Linked DNA regions of Homo sapiens: region 1 is linked to region 2. Evidence: fine-mapped expression QTL. A gene starts in region 2. The other region holds a variant in brackets. All regions are shown on one strand. Distances are from middle to middle.

The links.
Region 1: its variant is fine-mapped to the expression of SESN3 in whole blood (TOPMed, PIP above 0.99). The same link has a PIP of 0.9 or more in lung.

Annotation. Positions count from the first base shown.
Region 1 is chr11:95,169,500-95,178,242 of GRCh38, reverse strand. It overlaps SESN3 (sestrin 3), which reads left to right. Exons shown (of 10, transcript NM_144665.4): 8 at 334-524; 9 at 2,601-2,745; 10 at 4,902-8,743. The coding sequence ends at 4,988. Among named protein-coding and RNA genes, the nearest start is that of LNCRNA-IUR, 23 kb to the right of the region's middle. The variant T/G (reference allele first, on the strand shown) is at 5,121.
Region 2 is chr11:95,226,454-95,235,196 of GRCh38, reverse strand. It overlaps SESN3 (sestrin 3), which reads left to right and starts at 3,995. Exons shown (of 10, transcript NM_144665.4): 1 at 3,995-4,414. The coding sequence starts at 4,337. It overlaps LOC100129203 (a long non-coding RNA gene), which reads right to left and starts at 5,011. Exons shown (of 6, transcript NR_110295.2): 1 at 4,702-5,011; 2 at 3,624-4,072; 3 at 3,021-3,145; 4 at 2,523-2,607; 5 at 2,278-2,317; 6 at 793-1,743. RefSeq lists enhancers at 2,337-2,976, 2,977-3,616 and silencers at 3,972-4,121, 4,132-4,441.

The sequences.
Region 1 (8,743 bases), 57 kb after region 2:
TCCATGTCACTGGGTAGGTTTGTTCACATGGGAATATTCCAAGATCTCCTGGGGCCCTTCCAGATAAAAGGATAGTGTGCGTAGTACCTGAGTGTAGGAGATGACCAGAGTTCATCACTAACATGGCAAATCCCATACCCCATGAAGAAACATCCAGACACTCTGATCTACTAACTGATGTGAAGGGTTATTGGTAAAGCCTTAGTAAAGCTGAAAACCTAGAGCTAAATTAGAAATAGCCTCGCTTACTTGCTTCATTAGTTATATTTAATAATACATAGAATTTAGATGGAAAATGCCCACTTTGTAATTAAATACATTTTATTCTTTTAGGACTATACCTGGGAAAATCATGGGTTCTCCCTGGTGAACAGACTTTATTCTGACATTGGACATCTTCTTGATGAAAAGTTTCGGATGGTCTACAATCTCACATATAACACTATGGCCACCCATGAGGATGTTGACACAACCATGCTGCGCAGAGCTTTATTTAACTATGTTCACTGTATGTTTGGAATCAGGTATGTTCATTGTAGAGACAGTTTTTTACATTTCTAAGTGAAAATTCAAGCATGAGTCTTATTTTTGTCCTGTTTGGGAGTATATGACTCTGGGAAGAAAATATTACATGTAGACTTCTGATTTTAAAAATTAATTTCATTTTATGGAGAAGCATTTTTCTTTAAGTGTTATGAATCTTAACATTGATGCACATGTAAATATAGTGGTAAAAATTTACTGAGGGAAAAAAGCATCAGTAATGATTGGGGATAGGATAGAATTAGACCAAATTTGAGAATCCTTCCTGGAAGAACAGGTGAGTTTTAAAAAAACAGGTGTAGTGTCCCTTTAGATCACTATAATAAATTCTGGTTTGTTTAGTTAGTTTGGTCTTTTTAAAACTTATTTTTTAAGGAATGGTAATTACGGTATAAACAAAACTGTACTAGGTTGTGCCTTCATAAGCTTACATAAGGTCACATAACACTGAAATTAAATATATCAGCCAATATAAATTAATGACCTCTAAATTTAGAAAATTAGCATTGAGAGGACAGTAAGTACATGAGATTGAATAGTCTAATCAAGAAAGCACTTTTTGGAGAATGTGCCTTTTTGAGTTGTGGTTTTGAGGCTTTTATGGAAATAGATTAGCAGACAGAAAAACTTTCCAGTTACAAATTATTCAACTTGACTATATAGATATATATCAGACAGACTTTATGATAATTAGAATTTAATCGGTTAAGCAAAGTATTTTCTATAATTTTAGCTGAAGAACCCCAAAATTTACTGATAAATCGCCTAATAACACGATATTCCATGTAATAGATTATGGTTGTATGTAATAACTGAGCTATTTGTCCATTTACCATGCTAGACAATGTTATCAAAGAATCAATACATTTTAAAACACATATATATCATATCTACCTACTTAAGAAAAATAAACACCGATAAAACTCAATTTAAATGCAATAAATATGTATTGGATACAAGGCAACAAATGTGGTGAATATATCTGTTGGATGCTACAAAATAAAGCTTACATAAATGCATCAAGATACTCTTTTTATTAAACTAAGCATTATATGGGTTAAAAATTAACTGAAAATGTAACAGAGAAATTCCACAAGTTCCCAATACTACATTTACCTACCTGTCTACATCTGTGCCCATTTACTCTGCTGTCATTACTGTCTATGTTCCTATACACTTATGCACAAAATCCCATTTCTCATTTTCTAAAGATCTCAGTTCTAGCAATGCTCCCTTCTCTCTCCAGCATAATCAGCTTTACTCCCATTTTGGATCTTTCCCATCAGCATTGAAACACACTTAATTTCTCCCATCTTTAAAGAAAATTTCAGTTTCACCTTTCATTTCCATCTGGCTACTGCCTCATTTTCTGCTTTCGTGCGAAGCAAATCTCTGACAAAATTGTGTATATTTACTGTCACTATTTTCTTATCTCCCATTCTCTCTTGAACCTATTCACAGTATCAGGCTTTTGTCCCTATCAACCAACAAAACTGCTCTTACCGAGGTTGCTAGTGACCTCCATATAGCTACTTCCAGTGGTCAGTTCCCAGTTATCTTATTTGACTATTTGGCAGCATGGGACTCAGTGATTACTTGCTCTTCCCTGAAACACTTGACTCCTACCTCAAGTCCTTTACACTTGCTTCTTTACCACCATCTGGTATTTGTTCAAATATCAAGGCTTTCAGAGAAGCCTTCCTGCCCACCCTATTTAAAATAACAACTCCTCTCCTCCCAGACCAAGTTCCATTTCCTCTCCATGGCAGTTATCACCATCTGACTACAATGTGTTTATCTTTTTAATTTTTCTTCGTTTTTTCTTCAACAAAATTTAAGCTCCATGAGACCAAGGATTTTTGTCTGTTTTGTTCACTAGTATATCACTACTACTGAGTACTCATGGCACATAATGGGTACTCAGTAAACATTTGTTGATTCAATTAATTAACGAGCTTTTAGTATTTAATTACTAGACAATAAATGTCCTTAGTATAACTTTGGAAACTAAATATTTTGATTTTGTCATTATAAAGCTATTGTTGTATTGCTCGTAGGTATGATGACTATGATTATGGAGAAGTTAATCAATTACTTGAAAGAAGCCTGAAGGTTTACATTAAGACAGTGACCTGCTATCCTGAGAGAACTACAAAACGCATGTATGATAGTTACTGGCGGCAGTTCAAACACTCAGAAAAAGTACGTGTTTCAGTATTAAGCATTATACCATAGACAGTTCTTCAGTACAAGAAGTAATAGTTATGAAAAATGACACATGAAAGTATTAATAAATTATAGCCATTGACATGGAAGTGGCATCATCTAGCTATCTGGGGTTTTTTTGCTTGTTTGTTTGCCAGGCTGGAATGCAGTGGCACGATCTCAGCTCACTGCAACCTCCACTTCCCGGGTTCAAGTGATTCTTCTGCCTCACCCTCCCGAGTAGCTGAGATTACAGGTGCCTGCCACCACGCCTGGCTAATTTTTGTATTTTTAGTAGAGGTGGGGTTTCACCATGTTAGTCAGACTGGTCTCAAACTCCTGACCTCAGGTGATCTGCCCACCTCGGCTTCCCAAAGTGCTGGGATTACAGGCAGGAGCCACTGTGCCCAGCAGAAACCGTTGTCTTAATAGGTTAACTTTAGTGGTTAAAGAATCTCGAAATGGATGTGCCTTCTGGGCCAAAATACAATTATACCTAATACAACATTTCAGTATGTCTGATTTTTATTAATAGTTAGAACTGTAGACAGTTTTCCAAATGTGCTTTGAAGATATCAGTACTCAGATCTAGTATTTCTAAGGCTTACGATAAACTTTTATATGCTATATTGAACAAAGCATATAACCAAAATTGGGTTACTAGTCAATAAATCTGAATTAAAAAAATATTTTAAAAACCCAGATAGTGGCTGGGTGCAGTGGCTCCCGCCTGTAATCCTAGCACTTTGGGAGGCCGAGGTGGGGGGATCACCTGAGGTCAGGAGTTCAAAACTAGCCAGGCCAACATGTAGTGAAACCCCATTTCTACTAAAAAATACAAAAATTAGCTGGGCATGGTTGTGCATGCCTGTTGTCCCAGCTACTTGGGAATCTGAGGCAGGAGAATCGCTTGAACCCAGGAGGCAGAGGTTGCAGTGAGCCGAGATCACTCCACTGCACTCCAGCCTGGGCAACAGAGCAAGACTTCATCTCTCGAAAAAAAGACAATAGATTTTTACCCAAACTTGGTAATTTAGTGTTTTGACAGTATAATTCAGGACCTTTGAGCCAAATATACTGTTACATAAAAATATTTATTTGAAAGAAATATATAGGCAACATGAAGTTAGAAAACCTAATAAATGTTAAGGATCTTTATCAACATCATAGTATAAGAGCTGGCCTTAAGTCCTAGGACTTTTAACCTTTAAGTTCAAGAATCTCCTTTATACAACAGTTTCGAAGCTTGAAAGTAAGAAAATCTTTTTAGGAAACATTCGCTAATAAACTGTATGATCTTAGCAGAGAATGTTATGGCTTCAGTACCTAACAGATTTTTTGAAGTCTTAGAGCCACTCACATCAGGTAAATACCCATTTTACATCCAGCATTTCCCCTTGATGGGTCTTTATCCCATATTTATATGTTTGCTCTAGATTTTCTTCCTTTTCTAGATTGTATCTAGAAATTCTCTTTACTCTTCAGGAGAATATATCCAACCACATATCCAACTGGTATAAATATATCAAAAGAATATAATATTAAAACATATTTTTATAGTAAATTTTGAAAACTTGTGGATACCCATTTTAACTTATCAGCCGAGATGTAACCCCGAAAGAAATGTTCTGCAGAATTTTATCTGAAAGACTCTAGGGAAGCTATGTATGTCTAACAAGTATCAAACACTAATCAGAAACTTTAAACATCAGATTTTCACTTTAGTATCTTTTAAGTAAATACTAGGAAAAATTTTTTAAAGCTTTTCACAGGATAAGCATAAACTGTTAAAAAAAAAAATGAGGGCTGATTTTTAGCCATGTAAAATTTTATAACTAGAAAGAAATGTAATTTGTAGGAAAATTATAATTTATAAAAATTAGTTTTATTTTATAACCCAACAGATTGACTTTACAAAAATAACAACTTTAATAAAGTTATCAGAATTTTTTAGATTTTATGGGTTATTTTTACTGCTTGCAGAGCCATTAGACACAGGTTTGAGTGTTGCATCATGAACATGGATAAATATGCCTAGGTGTGTGTGTGTGTGTATATTGCTTATATACACATAAAAAAACCTTTGTGAATGTCTAATAAGATTTTCCAGGTGTTTATAATGGTTACTAAACTGATAACATTTTCACTTCTAGGTTCATGTCAATCTACTTTTAATGGAAGCACGAATGCAAGCTGAACTTCTTTATGCTCTTCGTGCCATAACTCGGCATTTGACCTGAAGTATCACCCAAGGAAAATGTCATACATGTGTAAAGACCTTTCACATAAGATAAACATTGAAGCTATTTGTGATATAGCATCAAAAATTATTCAGTTCTCTAGTGTCAAAGTTTAGCCGTTTGTTTTTTTTT[T/G]TTTGTTTTTTGCGGCTGTAATGTGCAATGATGTGTTTTATTTTCCTTGATGCTTAACATTACTAACAATTGCAAAAATAATACTGAGGAGCACTACTTTGCATTGTTTGTAGTTGGAGTTTTGGATACTGATCATAAATCATGAATCTGGCGTATTAATGCTTAACTTCAGCGCCTTTGGGTTGTGTGTATGTGTATTTTTTCTCCCCCCACCCCGCCCTTTTTTTTTTAAGAATAAGGACAAGTGCTTACAATCTGCTCAAGCAATTGTTTTTCAGATATTGGAATTCAGCAAAGAGTGACCTCTCTGGCCATTCTAAAACTTTAATGTTGTGTCCTAAATCTGGTGGAGGAAAAGCATGCGCTGTTGAACCAAGCTGCTCACTGGACACATATTTGTGTCCCCAGGAGATTATTTGTCAGGCACTGTTTTTTATTTGTTTGTTTGTTCATTTATTGTTGTTTTACTGCTATTGGCGATAACATGAAATGTGATACAGCTATTGCCCATAATTTAATGTGAAATTAATCATGATGAATTCTATAGCATGCTACTGAAATGCCAAATTCAGCTATTTTCTTTCTCTTCTAAAATGGAAGTTTCAGTTTTCCATATCAGATGTATATAAGTGGAATTATAACACAATCCTATCACTGACAGTAATCCTCAGTCACCTTAAATAATCAGTGCTCACAGTGCTGCTTACAGTTCATTTAGTTGGCACATATAAACCTGTACCCACACAAGACTGACCAAAAATTTTCTTTGCACATTTTTCCTTTCTCATAGTTTTTTTCTATATTTCGTTAAGCAAAGGAAGGTTAATATGCCTATTTTTCCTGTTAGGCTTTTAGAAATTATTTTCCATGACTTTTGTTCTTATAATAGGTTAGACAGTTTATTTTTCAAAGGTAAAAATTGTGTTTCTATGCATTAATGTGATTGAACTACAAAAACAGAGTGCAATATGTTCAAAAAATACTCAACTAAACTTTCCCCCTGTCATATCACTGCAAAAGTGTCCTTTTAAACAGAGCCATAAAGAAATTTTTTTCAAATTTCTTTATTGCACAGGCTTTTTTCAGTTTTACCTTTCTGGGATTGAACAATGTTCCTTTCATAATGCCAAAGCATTCCCTTCCCCAGAAAAATCTCCTTGGACAACTGGTTTAAAAACGTTATTAAGTCATAGGGGAGGAATAAGCGGCCAAAAAGTCACATTTTTGCATTGGTTTACGTTGCTTGATTAGACTATCTTCAGAGAGCACATTATGTGTTTATAGCTTTAATTTGTATTATGTCAATGAACCAGTGAAGTGCCTAAAGAGATGCTTACAACTATCCAGTAGGACACAACTGCACTGCTTTTTAAACACTTTTTGGTTAGTTAAGGGTGACTTGAATTGTACACATACATGCTAATTTTTGAAAACTTATCCATTTTTCATAGTAAATAATATAGATAAAATTTTCTGTTAGAGTTCCCGCAAATATTTCATTTTAGACTTACTTGTGATATAAGATTTAACTTTTCTTTTGTGAAAGAATCGTGAACTAGTGTTTCATGAAATCATTTTCCTCTTCCATTTATCATCCTCCTCTGGTACAATATATTGGGTTGCTTTCTTTTAGATTTTGTTCCAGATAGGAAAACAAATATGACTGTATACTTATTAACATAAGGTAGTTCTGCATTTTTGGATTCCAGGATCCTGTTTGAAATCTTCCATGTGAGGAAAAAATTACTAATATTTTTAAAGACAGGGTGGTTTATTTAAAGAGATTATTCAGAGAACTTGTGCCATATCTCGTCTGTTTTATTGCATATGCCATATGTTAACTTTTATTCAATATTACATTATGTAGATATGTAATACAAAGAAAATATTTAGGAGAATGGCAAAACACAAATGGCAACATAAATGTCCATTTGACTTACCTAACTTCACAACTTTCAAGTTGAGGATGTCATTTATTCTTGAATTTGTTTTTTTACTAGATGCTTTCAATTAATAGCCCTATATTTTTGTGCAGGCGAACTGTATAACAGGATAAAAAATGATTTGTATGTATTGAAAAGGAGGAGAAATTCTCACAGAACACCATATGAGCTTTAGACCAAAAGGGGAAACAAGGTTTAAGTAACTAAAATGGCCACTTAGTTTGTGTTTATTTTTTTCCCTGGAAATGTAAGTAGTTGGAGTTTAGGCTATGGAAATATTAGTGCCTTTAATAGATCTCTTTCCTTGCAAAGTTTCTTTTTAGCTCAGCATTGATCTATCTTATCAATAGGAAAATAAGTTGACTTGGAACTATAAACAAAAACAACACCATATATTTATGAACCTCAGTGAACCAGCCTAGAAAAATTGACTTCTGCAGGTGCTAAAGCACCTACTAATACGCAGCATGCACAGCATTTCAGGTTGTGAATACCATTTTACAACGAGTTTGCTGTTAACTCTCTTTATCCAATGCAAACTTGAAATTCTGATGCGGTTTTCCAGGGTGGTATTTTTTCAGAGTATTGAATTTACTATTTAGTAATTTATAGTATAGCTTTTTATATTAAAATGTGATATTTTTAAAAGAGATATCTGGTTCAATTGGTATAATGACGTGATTATGCAATATGCTGATCTACACCTTGCGCTCACATTGTGCCAAACTTAAATGTGCAAGTGTACGTGAGAAAAGCACATGTGAATGTGAATTCTTTAATTCTTTGCTTATTATGTTAAAATTAGTCTTCATAGTCCACTGATGTGTATGCTTGAATAATGTCTATTTACTTTGGAATTTCAAGATTTCCAGCTTCAATGGTAATTTATAATTTCTCAGATCACCTTAAGAAATATTGAGATACTCTCCCACCTGAAAATAATCTGTTCTTTAACCCACCTGACTATGGGAGTAGCCAGGCAGGTGCCTCACTGGCTTCTTCAGACGAGGCTTCCTCAGGTGGATATATGACTATTAGGGGAAAAGAGGCTTTTGAGACAGCTTATTACCTCCTTCCCCTTTTTGAACTAAGTACATTGTCTCAGTCCCAGTATGAATTTGTCCCATTTGGGGTATTTTTAAAATAAAAGATGGCTAACATGGAATCTGGGGCATAGCCTTGGCCTTTAATTATGGTTGTAAGCCCAAATAATGGCAGAGAAACACAGGGCTGTTTTTACAACAGAAAACTCAATATAAGTTTTATATAAGAATCCTATAAAATTTGAACCAGAGCTCCTATTTAGTTGTTATAATGTCTCCTAAAGATCTTAAATGCTTCTAAAAGCTAATTATTATTCCAGAGCAACTTTTTCCTTTTCCCCCTTATAAAGTTTTTTTTTAAATCCAAAATCTTAGATTTCTGTGCCACAGCAAAATAAAATGATCAACAATTAAAGATCTGTACTTAAAATAGTACACCATTTTTAGTGGAGGGAGGGTGCATGCCTATATGATGGTAAGATTCTTTTGAACTCTAAGGACAATTCCTCATGGAAAAAATAAATTTCAGTGCATATTATAAAAATGATTTGCACTGTGTTAGCAAAATAAGGTGTTTTAGGTTGTATTTTAAAGACAATTCTAAATCATTTCTCTGGAAAGCAAGACCTTAAATTCT
Region 2 (8,743 bases):
TTGAAACTATAGAGGAACTCAGTTCTTTGGTCAATAGAATGAGAATATTTAAAGAAGTAAACAATTTCAAGTCCAAAGTCACAGCATATTATTAACAGGGTAACTTCAATCAAACATGCTAAACACAAAAATTTTCCTTCAACCCTTCCTACACCTCTGGTTTGTGGTAACAACTTTCATTTGATAAAAGAGAGAATGATGCCCAACCCATAATAGTTAATACATTCAATGTCAGAGAAGGATTGGTGACAGGTAAGAACATGAGCCTAATCTCTCTGCTTCAAAGCAGTGGATTTTTCTGAACAATTCAATTCACATTTATTGGGGTGCTTTTATAAAGAGTGAAACTCATTACTTTCTCCAAAATTTTTTTGAGCACTTCCCTATCAGTTGAGCTAGGAGCCAAGGATACAAAGTAAATGTTACTCTATCCCTGCCTTCAAGGGGTTTGAAGTCTAATGAGAAAACAGGAGTTAAACCTACCATTTCCCTAGTGAGCTTTTTGGTAAAGAAGAGGTATAGAGGGGCACTATGGATGCTTGGACAAGTGCTTGATTCAGGAAGTGTTTCAACAGAAGATATTCACCAGGCAGAAGGAAGAAGGGAAAGGGATTAAGGTAGAGGTAGGTGGAATACTGATGGGCCTTATGCAGAATGATAGCTTTCAAATGATTGCTCTCACCTGTGTTCTTATTCAAATCTTTCCACAAAATATTATAGCAAGTTGCACCATGAGCCTTAAGACATATGTATACCCTTTTACTCAGAAATTCCAGGCCTAGGAATCAGAGATTCTGCCAGAAACTTAAGTATAAGGAAGTTTATTTTGTTATTTACAATCATGAAAAATCTGAAACAACCCACATATTAAACAATAGCATAAGGATTAAGTAAGTTATGGTACATCCAAGCCATGTAATTTTATGGATTCTTTGCTTAAAAAAATTACACTTTAAAAGAATAATTCAAAACAAGCAACATGATTATGAGATAACAGTTTTGAAATGATGTACAATGTTTAATGAAGTATCATCCTAATTTTGTAATAAAAAATTAAAAAGTAGTTCTCAACATTGGTTGTAATTTTCACTCATATCCTACTTTTCTAAAGTTCTTTCTTGTTTTAAACATACCAGACAACAAAAGGGGTGGAGTTTCTCCTTGTTCTATGTGCAATAAAAAGAACTGGCTTTTGTTTCTTTTCCTCTTAAGTGCGATCCTGGGTTTGAAATAAAATTCCCTTTATAATATTCAGGCTGGCCAAGAAAGGAAGGAAGGTCAGGTGAAGAATGGAAGAGAAAGGAGATGTCCAGAAACTGAACATTTCCATGAGAGAGGAGAATAACTATGATGGGAATGAGGGTGTGAGGACAGACCAGAAAGGGTGGTTGCTGTGTTAAGAATAAGGTACTGGCATTGAGTAGTTGAGGGCAGAACATAAACACATACATAATGGTTCACTGTAAGAAATGTCACAATGTAATACATGATTAACTGCCAAATAAATAGCACTACAGACAATACATATTATAATAGTTTGGAGGAATTTGGTGCAGAGAGCCATCATATGGTCAGATACATGTATGTGACCATGTATTATTGAAGATATTCATCTACTAAAATCTTCCTTTAGCGATCTTTGTTAGAGGGTGTTATTGTATAGGACTAGATTCTCTCGGCTTTCCTTTCTGGAGGATTTAGTTACTGAAGAACTTAAAGGAACTCATTTCGAAAGGATTTTAGCTGTCAAGTGAAAAAAGAAAAGAAAAGGTTATAAGAAGAATGTGCTAGAAAACAATATGAATTTAAAATTCTATTTGAGAAAATTCAATCTGCACAAAAATTCACTTCATCCTTCAATTTCTCCTTTCCTTTAAAATGTACTCACATAAAATCTGCTTTAAAAGCCAGAACCAGCCAGGAATATAGCCCAAGAAATTTACCACTAAATGGGGACACATATGTGTTTCTTAGAAAAACTGTGCCTTGCTGACTTTCTCCCTGCATTTCTTGGTTCTCTGCATCGAAGGGCATGTGGTAATTCCCTCCTTTTCTGAATTTACTTGCTTTTACAGTTTCTTCTAACTGAATCTTAAGCACCTTCCCCACACCATTCATTGCTCTTTAGTTATGTATGTCTACACAGCATCAAGCGACCTTTAGCTAACACTGGCTAAATAGATCAACACCTTTACCCAACTACATAACTTAGACCCTTTTGGGGTTTTCTACTCTATTTTGATCTATTTAAACCTGATACTAGCAGATTTCCATTACCTTTGTTTCTTGTGTAGACTTGGTTTATATGTGTTGGTCTCTAAAAAGGGACAGAGAGGAGACAGCTGTTGAGAAATGAGAATGGCAGTTTTAACCGCACAAATTGGTCTAATAGCTTTGATATGCTAAACTTGCTAGCTCCTCCAAGTGTACCTTTCCGATTTTGCATAACACCACCCTGAATCCCTAAGGAAACCAGGGTTGTTGTTTTTTTTTAATTAAAAAGAAAAGAAAGAAATGCAAACCAGTGAAACCGTTCTTTTAAATCATCTCCACATAGATTTCATTCTACGAACTTCAGGCCTTCACAAATCCTGGTACGCTGGAGACCTTTAAAAAGGGAGAAGCCGAGAATACTGATTAGGTTCTAAAAATCGAAAACAGGTGATGTCATAATGCACAGTCCTGTGGCCACGGCCATGGCCGGGTGGGGAGCTGGGCTCCAGTGAGCACAGAGCTCCTTGCCAGTAGGCGATGCAAGTTATCTCTGGGGCCCGGAGGACACGAGTGAGGACCGGGCACCAATCAGGTTCTCGCTCTGCGCCGGCCTTTGTTCTCACTCGGGAGCAGGTTGCGGGCGTCTAGCATCGGGAACCCGCATTCGACTCGGACGCGCATTGCTAGCCCCTTCGGGAGACCTGGCTCCCCTACCCGTCTGTCCCGCCACACTCGGTCAGCCTGCGCTTTCCCCAGTCAAGTCTGCCTTCTCTCCGCAGAACGTGGACGCTAAAACCCTGACTTACCATTTTAAGCTTTAGAAGAGGTAGGTTTGTCCCAATAGTTTTAAACGACAATTTGTTCTCTGAACCTTCCTTTCTGAGCAGGGCGCTGTGCTCTGCATGTATCCGAACAGCTGCCTCAGGAAGGTCTTTTGGGTGAGAAAACAAGCCCCTTTGGCCTTTTAGTGCTGGACAAGTAAATGAACTTACATCTCTAAGATAACTGCTAGAAGGTGCTTCACAAACAAGAGGAAACCGCTAAACCAGAGGTTTTGTGTCTCTCCCCTCAAACTCGATTACTTGCGTAAATATATATATAACTCAGACATTTATCCCCTATCCGCCTCCCAAGCCTCAAGTAACTGAAATCTTTGCAAAACAAGGTTCACAATAAATGATGCGTAAAGTTCTTTGAGATCCCTGGATACAAAGTACTACATAACTGCAGTCTTCTTTACAGCTAAAGTTAGATTTTGGTGGAGAGAAAGCCTAACCACTGCCCTGAAGGAAGGAACATTTAATCCTCCCACTCCCCTCCCCCTTTCTCGAGAGATCAGGAAATATTTAGCTCAATCTTAGACTCTCTAGCGAGCTCTAGCTCCCAACTATTTATCTCATTCTCCTCACCACTTCTGCAGGGACCTAGAGAAGGGGGCGTAGCTTATCTTGGGGGTGGGGCTTGGAGGGCAGTATATTTGCATATGACACACCCTCGTCCTCTTATTGGCAGAGGAGAGCAAACTGTTCCCTGCTACCCTACTACTTAGCTAACCGCCACCTCCCTTCAGTTCCGAGCCTCGGAGATAAACTTAACTTGCCCGGAGATTCAAGGCTTCCTCGGCCCCTGCGATTGGCCGGCGCGACTCCCAGTCGGGCTCTCGTTGCTCATTGGCTGCGGGCTAGCGCCCTGGGGGCGTAGCCGGAGCTGTCCGATTGGCGGGAGGGGCGGTACCGGAGCGTGGAGGTGGTGAAGGTGGTGGGGCGGCGGAGGCGGGGCCGCACTGAGGCGCTGCGGCGGCGGTGGTGGCGGTGGCAGCGGTGGCGGCTGCTCGTCCTAGCCTGGCGGGGGCGGGGGTCTGGAAGATGGGGGCGGGTGGAACAACGGGCCGGTGAGGAGCAGCCGCCGCCGTCTCCGCCGTCGCTGGGGCAGCTGCCGCGGTGGTCGCCTCTGGCAGTGCCGCTAGCTTTCAGGCAGTCGCCTCTCCTCCCGACATCCCGCCTTGAGGAGGCTGAGGCGGAATCGCGGCTGGCGGCGGGGGGACGGACCGGCCCTGCAGTGGCCGCAGTGACAGCCCGGACCCGGCCCTCCGCCCGCTCTCGCCTCGGCGCCCGCAGCCACGATGAACCGGGGCGGCGGCAGCCCGTCGGCCGCCGCCAACTACCTGCTCTGTACCAACTGCCGGAAAGTGCTGCGGAAGGTACGGGTTCGGCCCGGGGTCCTGCCGGCGAGGGTCGCTTCCTGCCGGCCGGGGCTCGGGCGGCTCGTCCCCGGGCGCGCACTGGGGGAGGCTGAGAGGGATCCCCGGGCACCGTCCCTCCGCAGGGACTGAGAAAGGGGGCGTGGGTTGAGGGCAGGAGGGTTTGGACTACTGCGGCTTTTTATTTCCGCCGGGACAGACCCAAGTCTGGAGGGGTTGGGATATTTTTTCTTCCCTTGTTCCTTTTATTTGGTGCCTTTGCTCTCCTTTACGGCTCATTTCCCTACCTTGCTACCCCGGGTCGGCTCCTTGGGCGGAGGGCGGGAGGGATCCGTTCGATCCTCCTCCCTGTGCAGTTTAGCTGTTGATGGAGGTCGGTGTGAAATCAGAGCAGCTGGGTCGGATCCCGAGGAACCTGGCCCCTCTTTGCTGTGGCTAACTCTTGCGAGTGTTGTTTTTGTTTATTCGGTTGCTTCTGCCTTGCGCGCCTTGCTCAACAACCCCCGTTTTCAAATTGTTTGGATGGTAGTCCTGTGTCTGTAGTTCAGTCTCGAAAGGAACCAGTAAAGCATCTTGAACTTTATGCCCATGGGAAATGCAATTCGACCTGGCCAGTTCCTGAGGCTGGGGTTGGGGGAGGAGAAGACTGAGGTGGATGTGGGTTATTCCTCCTTAGCACCCCCCTGCCCCCGTGTTGATCCAGAAAAATGAGGCGCACCATCAGTTTATTGCTGCTTCCTAGAGTGACTGATAGAAAGTTTACTCCAGTATTGTTTAGCTTACTTGGCTTAATCGCCCCGCGGGGAAGGGCGAGAGGGATGGGGAAGGGAATGAAAAAAAGGTCTCTAGACTTTTTGATCAGATTTTAACAGCTGCCCCAAAGTAATATTATAATCAGTTTATTCGTATTCAAACTCTATTTTTACATTTTATTAAGTGGAAACGTTAGGTGAGATGCTTCTGTTTGTTCACTACAAATGAATTAAAATTGCTGAGCTGTGCAAATGCATCGGGACTGAAAGCGGAGATGAATATGGTACCGTTTTTAGTCAACATCTCTAAATACGGTTCACTTTGGGATTGTTCTTTCTACATTTTTTTTTAAAAAAGGAAGAAAGAAAAAAGCACATAAGTAAGCAAGCTCAAATATTTGCGCTCTTTGTCCAAAAACTGTTTTTCTTCCTCTGTGGGTCAGGCCAAGTGCCAATCAAAGTTGTTTTTCAAGCCTCTTTTCCCTGCAGTAGGGCTGCTGCTTTTTTTTTTCTTCCTATTTTATTTGAGAGCGTGAGAGCAAAGGGATTGCAGATTTGAGGTTAATTGAACAGTTAAATATGCCTTAAATTGTGTTTATTGGATATGTTTCTCTTGAAACAGATTTTTATTAAATGTGCATGTTGAGTATGTGCAGTTATTTTTTTCCATAAACTCTAGGATCAAATTACAGTTGATACTTGCTCAGCTCATTGTAGGGTAGCTTGTGAGAAATGTAATGGATCAGAAGTGCAGATCAGCTTAGTTGGATGTTAACTCTTTCACTGCAGGGCCAGATGTCATCTGAACTTAGCTTTCAAAAAAATTTATTTCTTAATTTTTAAATTTATGTTATGTCTTTGACATGAAAAAATGTGTCATTTAAGACATGTTTGATTAAAGTGCAGCCTGGTTAAAATGACAGCAAGTTATGCTTTTTAATTGAATAAGGAAAAAGAGCACTGTATTGACTTTGATAAAAAAATTTTTTAATGGCTCTGGCAATTTGTTAGGCTAATAAAATGTTTGGAGGTAATATTAGGCTTCAAAATGTATTTCATTTTTCTTTTGAGAGAGCTATGGCTATGGATCCATGACACTTTGCTAGCATTTAAGATATTACATCTTTCCTTTAGCTTTTAGGAAACTATTTCTGTTTACCTAGAAAGAACATCCTCATTTCTAGCCATTATTAAAAGAAACGTGGAAAAAGAGTATTCACATTTTCGTATTTTATAATTGCTGAGCACATCTCTGCCAGTATTCCAGTTTTTAGTAACTCCAAGGTATTTAATATTGATTCATGCAGTGGCATGAAATAACTTAATGGAAATAGGATTCTTTGAGCCAGTTATAACATGACTTGGCAACATTTGCAGCTTTTTAAAGAGTGCCACTTTGAAGTGCTCTTAAGAGAATCAGTATGTAGCATTTTAAATGTTTCATCATTCTTAAAATAACAATGAAAAGTTTATTTCTAATAAAGACATGTTTTTCTTGTTGATATAACTCTAAGTTAAAAGTCATCTATAACTCTCAAAATGTGATTCTTAGAGTTTATCTTGTTTTCCATTTAATAAAGTGTTCAGTAATGTAGCCAAGTGAGTCATAGTATTTTGAATGTTTGTTCAGTCTAATTCATAATGGAAGAATGAAACTCATGCTCATCCAGTGTGAATTACTTTTGCTTTTATATTTCTATATAATGATGGAAGAAGGGTCACCTTTATATGGGACAGAAAGTGTTATTCTCTCAGTAGGTGGCTTAATTTGTTGCAGTGTGTTGAATTTTAGGGGAACTTCACAAGGAATGGAATTCACCTTCAAATGAAATAATATGGTTTAACCCAATGCCTGAATATTGAATTATATATTGTATGAGAATTACATTTATTCTTAGAAGTCCGTTTACGGTTTTGATTTAGTATCCTCCAAAATAAAGAGACTTATTAAAATATTGAATGTACCTAATTTGGTAACCTTAGGACAGTAAAAAGAATGGAGAGGTAAACCATATCCATAAATAAATTAACCATCAAAACTATCCTGAAATCCCTAACTCTTAAGTCTAACTTGCTCTATTGTCAATGAGGTAGTTCAGTAAAGTTTTTAATAAAAGAGGAAATGCTTCTATTTATTTTGTAAAGTTAACGAGTTTTTAAGTTTAATCTTTTACTTGAAGAAATTCTAGTGATAACTAGAAGAACATAATCCTTTAATTTGAAAAGTCATGTGTCAAACTGCATTGAGGAAGGTAGGTAATTATCAGTCCACTCATCTTCCAGTAAATAAAAAAGTGGCATATTCCAATGTACTTTGGGTATTGAGCAGTTAGTGCTACTTAAATGAATAGTTTTGTGCTCTTTAGAGGATCTAACATTTAAACTTTTTTAATGTTAAGATAGTTATAGTGATATATCTTTGTATTGTTATTGCACTTTTCACTTTGTTATATGATCATATATTTTGACATCTTTTTGATGGTTTTATAAACAAAGATACTGTCAAAATGAAAAATACTAGATTGAGGACCGGGCATGGTGGCTTACGCCTGTAATCCCAGCACTTTGGGAGGCCAAGGTGGGCAGATCACGAGGTCAAAAGATCGAGACCATCCTGGCCAACATGGTGAAACCCCATATCTACTAAAAATACAAAAATTAGCTGGGCGTGGAATCGTGTGCCTGTAGTCCCAGTTACTCAGGAGGCTGAGGCAGGAGAATCACTTGAACCTGGGAGGCGGAGGTTGTGGTGAGCCAAGGTTGTGGTGAGCCAAGGTCACGCCACTGCACTGCAGCCTGAGCAACAAGAGCAAAACTCTGTCTCAAAAAAAAAGACAAAAAAAAAAAAGAAAAATACTAGATTGAACTATATGAGCCTCATTTTTATAGTCAAAATTGTTAAGTAATAGCAACTTTATATGGTTTAGCCAATAAAATGTATTTGCTCTATCTGTGGACCACTAGTTACATTATGCCTTGGTTAATCAGTTTTCTTGTGTTACATATTTTTGATTGTCAAAGGCAGTTTTTAACTTGATTATCTTAAATATCCTAAGCAGAGATCAAGTAGTTAATTAGTGATGGCAAACCTTTATGCAATGGTTTTCAAACTGCTTCGTATGGACCCTTAAGATTCTTTGGGGTTTTAAAATGCTTGAGTTGCATTAAATTTTTAAGTATGTTTTAACTTATTTTAAAACTGTAATTTAAAAATATGGGTACCCCCAAATATGTACACATAATTTTAATAACTGGAGTCTAACACCATTATCTTTCATTACAAAATTATTCTTGTGCAGGTCTTGAATTACAATTTGTTCTGCTATCTTTGTACAGATATTTGAATTTTTTTTTGTTACTGTGTCATGTATGAGAAAGATTGTCATTGATTGTGAAGGAACTGGCTTTTTAAAAAGAATTCCTTCCATATTTACTTAAGTTAAATGTTTACTTGTGAGAACACAAATTTATTGTTATCAGTAGTTGTAACTTTATTACTAAAATACTTGAAAGTTGCTTGGTATATTTATATGCTTTATAGTTCAGGTTCAATAGAAGATTTAATTTGTAAAAAGTG